Linked DNA regions of Homo sapiens: region 1 is linked to region 2. Evidence: fine-mapped expression QTL. A gene starts in region 2. The other region holds a variant in brackets. All regions are shown on one strand. Distances are between the middles of the regions.

Region 1 (5,387 bases), 230 kb before region 2:
GGAAACTGGTGCCAATTTAAATTAAAGGGGAGGGGAGGACATCAGCCGGGAAGGAAAGCAGGAGGCAGAAGCGAAAAGGCCTCCTGCTGGCTGTTCACACAGCGCCGCGCTGTCCAGGTGAGGTTGCAGGGAGCCTGCGATAAGTTCCCACTGATGACACTAGTGCCTGTTTCTCCTTTGCTGAAGCCCACGGCCCTCACCGTCTGGACCATTCTTTTGATGAACACATGCATTTGTGTTGCTTTTTGACGCTCTGGTCCACGTCCAGCTGATGTTTCCCACGGTATTGGAAGGTCCCGGAGGTCCGTGCCCACCCAGTGCCGCACCATAAATCAAAGATACAAAATTCAAGATAATACCTAATACCCTTTTATGCTAATTAATGGATTTAATTGCCACAACCGCCCTCAGAATTAGATAATATTATCATCCTTTCTTATGAGGAAACAGAAGCACAAAGAGGTTAGGCAATTTGCATATCACACAGCTAACAAATTGCAGAATATTTGAATCCACACCATTTATTTATTTGTTCCACAGTGAATGAACAAGTATACTTTGAGATATTGATATGAAACCAGTATAAGGAGAGATGGCAATGCTTTGAGTCTGTGCTGAGGAGTTAAGCACAGTGGCTGGATAGGCAAGGACACCCCCAGGCAGGAATGAAGGAAGGGTGCTTCCGCAACCCACCGAGTCAGCCTGGGTGATCCCTGCACTGACAGGTGACCAGCCAGGAATAAAGGCTCACTGACAATGTCCAGAAATGAGATAGTACTTTCTTTGTACCCAGGCTGACATGAGCTGGCAGAGGCAGCTTGTTGTCTATCCACTCCCTATTATCAATTTGTTTCTCAGTAGTAGAACACTGGTTTACCTGGGACCAAAAGGCGTCCGGCTGAAAAGACCACGTTTTTGAGACTTACTTATCACTCAGGATGCAATGAGATATCAGCAGAAGTGCTGGGTGGGAGGTGGGGAAAAGCTCCTTCAAAGAGGCCAACTCAAGCGGAAAATGTGCCCCTTGGCTCTCCCTCTCCTCTTCTTGCCTGGAACATGGACCTGATGGCTGGAGCACAAGTAGCCATTCTGGACCACGAGGATTCTTGAGGATAGAAACCAGTTTCAAAAGATGACAGAACAGAGGGTAGGAGCTAGAGTCCTAATAATCATGAGGCCAATTTTCTACTAGCCTAGAACTCCTTATTTCTCAATCCTTCAAGTGAGAGAAAAATATAGCTCTGTCTCTTGTAAGCCCTGTTATTTGAGCTTTCTCTCCTATGCAGCCAATCCTGATCCTGTGATAAGACTTTCTCATGTGTTACCAAAAATTGAAACACAACTTGAGTTTGCTTCCAATTGTTGGAAGCAAACCATGTCTTTAATGAAGGAAAGATATAGGAAAGAGTCCACATGCCAAGAGAATAATGGGTCCTTCAAGATGCAGGTCAGGTATCAGCTCTCAGATAAATTTTTTAAAATCTACCTTTATGCCTATAGGAAAGTTGGTTGTGGAATGATTTGTCATGCTACTTTAAACCTCACAAGGAATGTTTCTTTTCTTTTTTTTTTTTGAGACAGAGTCTCGCTCTGTCACCCAGGCTGGAGTGCAGTGGCACGATCTCGGCTCACTGCAACCTCCGCCTCCTGGGTTCATGCCATTCTCCTGCCTCAGCCTCCCAAGTAGCTGGGACTACAGGCGCCCACCACCAGGCCCAGCTAATTTTTTGTATTTTTAGTAGAGATAGGGTTTCACCGTGTTAGCCAGGATGGTCTCGATCTCCTGACCTCTCACAAGGAATGTTTCAAATAGTCTTCCTTTGATGCAGGAAATGTCCAGAAGAATGTTCTCAGTTCAAGGCAATGATCTGGCAATTAGGATGCCAGAGTCTGACTTTTAAAAATATAGGCTGCTGGGCACGGTGGCTCATGCCTGTAATCCCAGCACTTTGGGAGGGCAAGGCAGGTGGATCACAAGGTCAGGAGATGGAGACCATCCTGGCTAACATGGTGAAACTCCGTTTCTACTAAAAATACAAAAAATTAGCCTGGTGTGGTGGCGGACACCTGTAATCCCAGCTACTCGGGAGGCTGAGGCAGGAGAATCGCTTGAACCCAGGAGGCGGAGATTGCAGTGAGCCAAGATTGTGCCATTGCACTCCAGCCTGGACGACAGAGCGAGACTCCATCTCAAAAACAAACAAACAAACAAACACATAGGCACTGAATTCTGACCTGGGTAGGCTTAGTAAAATAATTACCATTCTGGGTTATAGCTCCCATCCAATATTCTGCAAGCACGCATAGTTTATTTTTCCTACCTGCACGTGCTGTCACTGTCAGGCCTTTAACTGAACATCTACTATTTCCAGTGCGGATTGGGGATTTTTATTTTTCAACAGTATTTTCCACTTGTTGTTGGACCGTTGGATCCTAAAACGTGTACCTGATTGTATTAATACATCACTTGGGCCCATCTTATTATCTTGACCAATGAATCTTACTGAACATGTATTTCAGAAGCACTTCTAGAAGACACAAGGTGACCCTCTAATTTTCACTTCTTTTGAGATTTGCACATTTGGCAGCTGAGGGCTTTAGCATGATCTTCTTCAGAGTTTACGGAAGCTGCCCAGTTTCACCCAGCACCTTCTAATTTGTTTCAGTGGCTCAGGTGAAACCAGAAGCATTTGTTTTAAAATCCTTCTTGCCAGGTTTTGTTTGCTGAGCCTGGTGCGTTTCGTTACTAATTCAACAATGCCGTGACGGCAGAGCCCAGTGCTTTTTCTGCACTGGGTAGGGTGGCACGTTGCCCGGAAGTACCTGGGGGCCACTGCTGCCACAGGACACAATGCTAAGTGGGAAAGGTCATGGGAGCTACACTCTATTAATGTGGTCAGAGTGCCTCTCCAAGAACAAAGTGTGGCCCCTCACAGGAGCATGAAAGCAGCCAGCCCTCTCTTTCCAGGTCGCTTTTTAAGCTTATCATTATGAAGTATAAACAGTCAAATTCCTTGGGAGCAAGTGCAGCCTTTTCTGTATTGCTTGCAGAATCTCTCCCCACTGCAGGTTTAATAAAAGCCAGGAGTACTTTTCTCTAGCTACAGCAAGATGTATTTATATGTTTGGGACTGGTTAACAGGGCTGTGGGAGGGGGTTAATTGTGGGTGGTTTTTTTTTTCTTTTGTTATTATTGGATAACACCATTATTTTTTCCCCACCTGGTACTGACACATATTAACACACATTTTAC[G/C]ATAAAGTAGTTCCTGTAAGCTGCTGCAATCATAGTCATTTGCAAACCCAAAGCTTGATAAACCTGAAATATTTAAAACAATGTTGTTATTATTAGCCAGTAAAGACCGGGCTCTCCAGACTTAGGACTAGCTGAAACTTCTTCCTGTACCTCTTGCCACATTTTCCTTATTCCTCTTAACCTAGAGAGTATACAGAATTTCTAGGGGGTTCTAGGAACAACTAATGGGCTACACACAGTGTTTTTGTGTTAATAGGTTTGGCTTTCTCTCCAGTTTGTTGAACGGTTTTTTATTGCTGATGTTTACGTTCTTATCATTTGCTCTCTGGCAAGGTTTTGTTCTTCTATAATCATTTTCTCATTTTAAATTCATTTGATAAGTGAATTTCCAAAAACCCTCAACTCTGCTGGGTTTGTTTTGGTTTTGGGCACCTCTGATTTATAAAAGTCATTCTGGATACTGATCAGGGTCATACTTCTTCAGGGGATATGAACGCATTTGATTAGTAGCCTGTGGGTCAGTCTGCTTTCCAGCATATATTTCTTGGGGTTGGAATCATAGAAATAAATCCAATTTGTTTGACTGAGATACTTCAATCCTCCTCCTAAGTCAGTTGTCACATTTCCCATCAATGTCCTATTTTGACATTGTTCACGTCATTGTGAGAGTAACTAAATATGCAAGGTTTTGGAATAACCTTTGGGATATTCTATTTTATTTGTTTTAGGAATTAGAAAATTCAATCTAAGCTTTACAAAAGTCTTTGCTACCTCATAAACCATGCTTCAATTCCAGTCTCTAAGTTAAGTCATATGACGTGTTTCTTTGTTGTGCCAGGGACCAGATCCTTTGGTGGGTCCCAGCTGTGGAGTCTGCAGCAGAAGATGTGACTAGAGAAGAACCTATTGCTTCAAGCAGTGATGATTTTGTTGAATTAAGGAAACAGACTAATAAGGATTTCAAAATACGAACCAGAGGATAAATGGTTTAAGATCAGAATACAGGGAAGCAGTAAATGTAGGGAAATAGCAAACTTGTTTCAAGAAAGTGCAAAATGTTTCCAATACTCTCTACCAGAGTAGCCTCCTCAGAGTAACAGTAATGGTAGTAATCACTTTAGTTACTCCATAACTTATTAACTTCTTTAGTTTCAACTCTGATAAATAGTTATGTCTTCATCAACTAATCTTAACCTTAACTCTGTGTCTATTCTAAACACTATTTTTATTCTCATTTTATTTCATTTTTTAAAACTTTGTATCTTGAAAACAAATCAAACTTATAGAAAAGTGCAAAGAATAGTAAAATAAACTGAAAATATTCTCATTTAAGATTCATCAGGTGTTAGCATTTTGCACATTTGTGTTTGCCTTCCATAGATGATACACAGATGATAGATAGGTAGATTGATTGATGTGTAGGTGTGCATACGGTATAACTTAAAATAGAAGCTAGATAGATAGATAGCTCTCTCTCTCTCTCCATATATATGTGTGTGCGTATACTATTAGAGCATATATATGTGTGTGTATATGTATTCTTTGATGATAATATATTTGTTTGAAAATCCTTCTAAACAAATATTTGTCTTAGAAAATCATATTATGGTGTGGTATTCTACGCTTTCATACTGAACATAATTTCTGAATGGAGATTTTCACACACATTCTGTATTTTCATTTCATAATAAAAACCAAAACAACTAGCAGTGTGAATTATAGGGTTCCCTTTATATGTTAGTGGATATCTTAATAACCTTTAATAATATAACAAATTTAATTATAATGTTTAAATATATATAAAAAATACCTTTATGACCACGTTGTTTAAAATTCCACACTAAGACAACAATCTCAATAGAGAAAACAGGCAAAAGCTATGAACAGAAAATTTACAGAAGAGGGAACCCTGAAAACCATCAACAATGAAAAGATGTTCAATTTGTCAGTAATTAGAGAAACACACATTCAAACAATAATGGGCCATTACTCTGCACCTATTATATTAGCAAAATTTTAAAACTAGATAATGCCAAGTGTCCTTGTCATAGCTGATTGGACCAAGGCACAGGGCAGCCCATGTATAAAGCTGCTGGCCACATAGGTGGTATCTCACTTGACTCAGAAAGATGGG
Region 2 (5,387 bases):
ACATTAGCAGAATGACATGACTGTTACAGAAAGCAGCAGAAACAAATTCCCAATTTTTAAAAACCCCCTCACAGTACTGGTAATATTTTAGTACTATTATGAAGAAGTTTTCATGTTAACTGCCTATCAAATTCTTCTTGACCTTCTCAGCTACAGTAATTTCGCCTTCATTTTCCAAAAACACCAGCCCATGTTACTATTTATTATAATGTATGGTGTTTTCTTACCACAAATTCAGTGTCTGAATTCATTATTGATCAATTTCCACCACAGTATATGCTGTCAAAGAATTCAGGCCGGGAAAGGAAAGTGATAGCATTCTATCAATAATTCTTTTTTATATAAAATTATTTCAAGAGAGAGTTTTAAAATCAAATACAATTTTTCTGGGACTCATTTTAAAAAGAGACTTATGTCCATAGTCTGCTTGAAATGGAATCAGTAATAACTGCACATAGAATACATCTACTCAACTTCATAGGCTAATTACATCAAATCTTCCAATTCTACATCCTCAGAAAACACTGATCCAAACCATAACATTAAACTGATCTAAAGAATTCCTCTTAGTAAAAAAAATAATTTTCCTTTGTATAGTAATTCACACAGAGTGATTAAAAAGACATGTCTGACACATTTTGTCTATCTCCATTTAGAACCTTTGAAAATTCAATTCTCAAGCCCCCATTATTTGCTTCTGATTATGGCTAGCTAAAATTGTGATTCCTTCTTGTTTTTAAACAGTTAAATAATACAAATATCACTTATTTTATATTTTGTACTATTATTTAATGTCTAAATGATAGACGTTAGATGGCTGGACAACTGAAATGCGGGTCTGACTTATACATGTTGACATATTTTAATCCAATTTATGAATGTTACAATTTTCATGGATATTCCTCGTGAGTTTCAAAATGTTGTTAGAGTGTTCTAATGCCTGTGAAGATCTACATATTGCTATGTACCTGCTTACCAGGCTTGTACCATCCAATAGAATGCTATTTACATGCTTACCAGGCTTGTACCACCCAACAGAATGTTGTTAAGAATAGGAATGTTAAAGGAAGAATGAATATTGTTCTATCTTCTATATTTCATGAAGGTGTCAAGATGTTTTTAAACACATTCCCTTGTCCTGTTTAAGGTTTCAGGCTCTGTATAACTATACTCCCAGGAATGAAGATGAGCTGGAGCTCAGAGAAAGTGATGTCATTGATGTCATGGAAAAGTGTGATGACGGCTGGTTTGTGGGTATGTGCGCTTCTTCCTCAGGCACCTTCGGCTATTTTGTAATTTGCTTGAGTTTGCTCACTCCCGTGGTTTGCTGTGATGGCCGAGCTTCCTTTGAATTCGTAATGCCTTTGATCTTTCAGACATTCATATGCACAATGTAATCCCAAGGCTATTGCATTTTTAATATAGTTTAGTATTCACTGCTTCAGCTATGTGTGATTTTCTGCGAGCTTTATTTCCAACTCAACTGAGAGAAGACAATTTCTTTAAATAGCAAAAACCAGGAAAGATTGAGATCTAAGAACAACAACAACAAATGGTCCCCAGAAGAGAAATATCAACGCTCTGTGCTGTGGAAAATGTTAGTTGTCCACAGTGAGAATCTAATTTCAGAGGGAGTGAGATTAAGTGAACAGCTCTCCCGTTTCCTAGGTCTGACGTAGATGCCCGAACATTCAGTGACTCACCTTAACTTTAGTTTGTGGTGGAAGCAGAGAGACGTTCCATTCTTCCCACTTAAAAGGCAACTTCATCTTTACCATCCTAAAAAAAAAGACGAGAGGTCTTCTGGGAAAACATTTGTAGACAAAAGTATTTTACACTGGGCCACAGAAAGAGGTGAAAAGGAAACACAGGCTGCAGGGCAGAGAATGGAAGAGAGGAAAGGTGAGAGGAGAGGAGGGCTCACTCTAGACATCCATCGGTGGCAAAATCATGAAAGAATTGAGGCCCTGGTGCGGCCACAAGCCTCTGATTTTATTTCCATTAAAAGAAGAAAAAAAGGCCGGGTGCGGTGGCTCATGCCTGTAATTCTAGCACTTTGGGAGGCCGAGGCGGGTGGATTACCTGAGGCCAGGAGTTCGAGGCCAGCCTGGTCAACATGGTGAAACCCCGTATCTACCAAAAGTACAATAATCAGCTGGGCTTGGTGGCAGGTGCCTGTAATCCCAGCCACTCAGGAGGCTAAGGCAGGAGAATTGCTTGAACCCAAGAGGCAGAGGTTGCAGTGAGCCGAGATCATGCCACTGCACTCCAGCCTGGGCGACAAGAGCGAAACTCCATCTCAAAAACAAGGAGGAGGAGGAGGAGGGAGGAGGAGGAGGGAGGAGAAACGTAAAATGGCTTGCCTAGCCAAGGAAAAAGAAAAACAGCCATCAAACCAAGGCAGTAAGTGCCAGGATATAGGAGACAGATGAAGCTTGAGAGACCCTTATCCGGTCCATCTGCGCTGCCTAAAGAAGAATTTAGCAATTTAGTGCACCAACTTTTACAAGAAGTGTCCAAGGAATTACATTATTTGAAACCAGAGGCGAACATAATTATGATAGCCATTTGTGCGTGTGGTTAAACACACACCATGTTAAAAATCATGCCACTGATAGAACTCCCACACACAAATAGTGCTTAATCCTTTTTTTCATTAATGATTTGTAAATTGTTGAAAAATTGTATACTCGATGAAGGACTCTGGCAGTGCTGTTTTTAAATAAATGATGTGGCACTGACCATGATCTTCTGTAAGATGATAAAACTGTTGGAACAGCGACAGCCTGCCACAGATGATGTCTTCATGTCGCACCTGTGTTGCGCGGGTTGCTGGTCCCTGAGAAGCTTTGCTCTTAGGATTTTCCACTCACCCTGTCACCTGTCAGCCTCGCCTTGATCCCTCACCCCCGACTCTGGTGTGGCAGCCTCAGTGACTGAGCTCCTCCGCCCCCCTCCTCAGCAGGGCTGACTTTCCCTTTAGCTTGGGAGGCTCAGCATTTCTGTTTAGCCTGCCGCGATGGCAGCGCAGCATTTATGCCGGAGGGGCAGTGAGAGCGTCAGGCAACCAGCTAACACTGCTTATTTTGTCTGCCTATGGGCTTCATGTGAGTTGCCTGCCTTCTTTTCCAAACCCCTCGGGGCTTGCTGTCTTCCGAGGCCTTGTAAATGGGAAGTATTCAAGCCCATGTGTATGAACTGATATCGTTGTCACCCCCCTTTCATGACTCGCTTCTATTTTCAGGGACCTCAAGAAGAACCAAATTCTTTGGTACTTTCCCCGGAAACTACGTCAAGAGGCTGTGAATTGCGCTCCCTCCTTCTGTAGAGGCCGCCTGCCAGCCATGCACCTGCGTCAACGCGCCTGAAACACCCCGCGGGCCTCCCGTTGTCATGCCTTACGGTTTCCAATGCGCCGTCACCATCTCCACCTGCCACCAAACCACCAGCAGAGTAGCCGCCGCTGCTGTGAGCCTGGGGACGACATGGCAGGCTGGTCCCCCTCCGTGAAAGTGTGGATTCCTACTTCCTGCTCTAAGCTTTGACACGTCAAAATGTGGGATCAGAAAGAAAAAAATCATGATATTTAAAAATGGTCAAATATTTGAGGCAAAAAAAAAAAAAAAAAGTGTCTCCAGGAGGCTGTCCAGCCTCGTGGCTCCATTTCAACATCTCCCCCCAGGCGATGTTCTCCCCCAAGACGACCAGAAAATTGTTTATTGGGGAATGCTGTGGTTTGCATTTTCATATTCTTCGCTTGGCAGTGTGTATTCTTTTCACAAGTTTGCCTAGTGTCTTGGTTTACACAATATGACAACTGTAACTGTACTTTAGCTATTGTTTGCCTGCACATACATGTTGTAATATGCACAGTGATTACAACCTTTAAAGCAAGAGGAGGCGAGTTAATTTGGATGAGTGTGATTTTGCTGATTGAATGTGAGTTTTCAAATAGGAGTCTTTTTCTGCAATTTGTTTGCATTTTTTAGAAGTGCAAACAGTAAGTAAATAAAAGCCTTCGGTAATAATCATGACAATACAAGAGGCTGAGCTAGGCTACAGGGGAAAACTATTGTGTTGTAAAGTTGCATCGCTATTTTATATTAAAATGTAATGATCAGCATCATGAACAATGAGCTCTTAGTGTTTTATTTATCTGAAAAAATGTAAGTAAAAGCAGTGTTAGTGAGAGGTGCAAAGAATTATTCTAACAGACACCTGAAAGTATCTGTAAGCAATACTAGTAGGTAAGATTTCACTGTGTGTACACATACACATTTGAGATTGTATGAGAACATATAATCCATATGATATGTTGTACATTTTATGGAAATGTAATAGAATCTCACACATTATTTTATAGAAATAGAGTACAGAAGCATCACAAGTATTAAAGTTGGTTTTAGCAAGGATTAGGATTACTACAATTATTTTTACTATAATAATTATTTTTCTTCTATGGAACTCAGAATCCTGGCTACATTTGAGGACAGGAATATGTTGAGCCTGATTTTCCTGGTGTGTGTAAAATATTTCCTAGGAATAAATTAGGCACTTTTTAGAAGCAATGTTAAATCATTCAGGTTTTATTTTCTGCCCTGAAGCAGAAATTTAAAAAATGATATTGGGACCTGGAAGGTTTAATATGGTTCACAGTGCCTGAATTACACCTGCTCCGAAAACTAGCTTTGTATTTCTTATGACTTTGCATAAGAACTGTTCATCTTTGGATCTTGAGCACCTTACAGATAAAACTTTTTATGGCATCTCTTTCATGGACAGTGATATTGATCTTTTCACAATGTACGTAGCCTCTAGAATTTTGTACATATGTTTGCTCTTTTTTTGTACAGACTAGTTGTTGAGAAAACAGGGGCGTTTCCTAATTTGGTCTTTATCCTGCGACAACACTTTCAGCAGACTAGCCTCTCCTTATCTCACAGATCACAAGCACCCCTAGATAGTGTGATTCTGTCAGATAGCATTTATGCAAAAATCTATGAAGTTAAAAGATCGTAGAAGCCAAATGAAATGTACATATCTACTGACTGATGACAAGGGAATTTCATTAGGAAGAAGGTAAAGAAACATCGTTGAGTAGCCTACCTTGATTTCTGTCAAGTTCATAACCAGCTTCATATTTTAAAGGCTTCAGGTTTGAAATTAAGTCAACTGCATGCAGCTTTGCTGATAAATGAATAATTCTCTTTGATGCCATTTATGAGAAAAGACTTCAATATCTGTTGCCTGTCATATTTAAGAAAAATTACTGTTTCTACTCTCTGTATCTGATTTTAAAAGAAAAAACTATTCATACCTGGCTTCCAGGTAATTGACTTTGAATTCTTACAAGCAAAGGTCATTGTGTTTTTCTTGAATAGACATCT

Direction of the effects. Alleles are on the strand shown, and positions count from the first base shown. SD is a standard deviation of normalised expression in the study named.
As copies of G replace C in region 1, the expression in pancreas of the gene that starts at base 3,008 in region 2 goes up (small effect, 0.20 SD a copy in GTEx).

Evidence for each region. PIP is the estimated chance that this variant, and not a neighbour inherited with it, causes the effect.
Region 1: its variant is the best candidate, but not a certain one, in a credible set for the expression of SORBS2-AS1 in pancreas (GTEx, PIP 0.84).

Annotation. Positions count from the first base shown.
Region 1 is chr4:185,815,013-185,820,399 of GRCh38, reverse strand. It overlaps a transcript of SORBS2 not described here. Among named protein-coding and RNA genes, the nearest start is that of SORBS2, 5.5 kb to the right of the region's middle. The variant G/C (reference allele first, on the strand shown) is at 3,254.
Region 2 is chr4:185,585,546-185,590,932 of GRCh38, reverse strand. It overlaps SORBS2-AS1 (SORBS2 antisense RNA 1), which reads right to left and starts at 3,008. Exons shown (of 4, transcript NR_186082.1): 1 at 2,743-3,008; 2 at 1,704-1,779. SORBS2 (sorbin and SH3 domain containing 2) reads left to right here. Exons shown (of 27, transcript NM_001395207.1): 26 at 1,148-1,254; 27 at 3,245-5,387. The coding sequence ends at 3,306. RefSeq lists enhancers at 3,354-3,433, 2,712-3,911.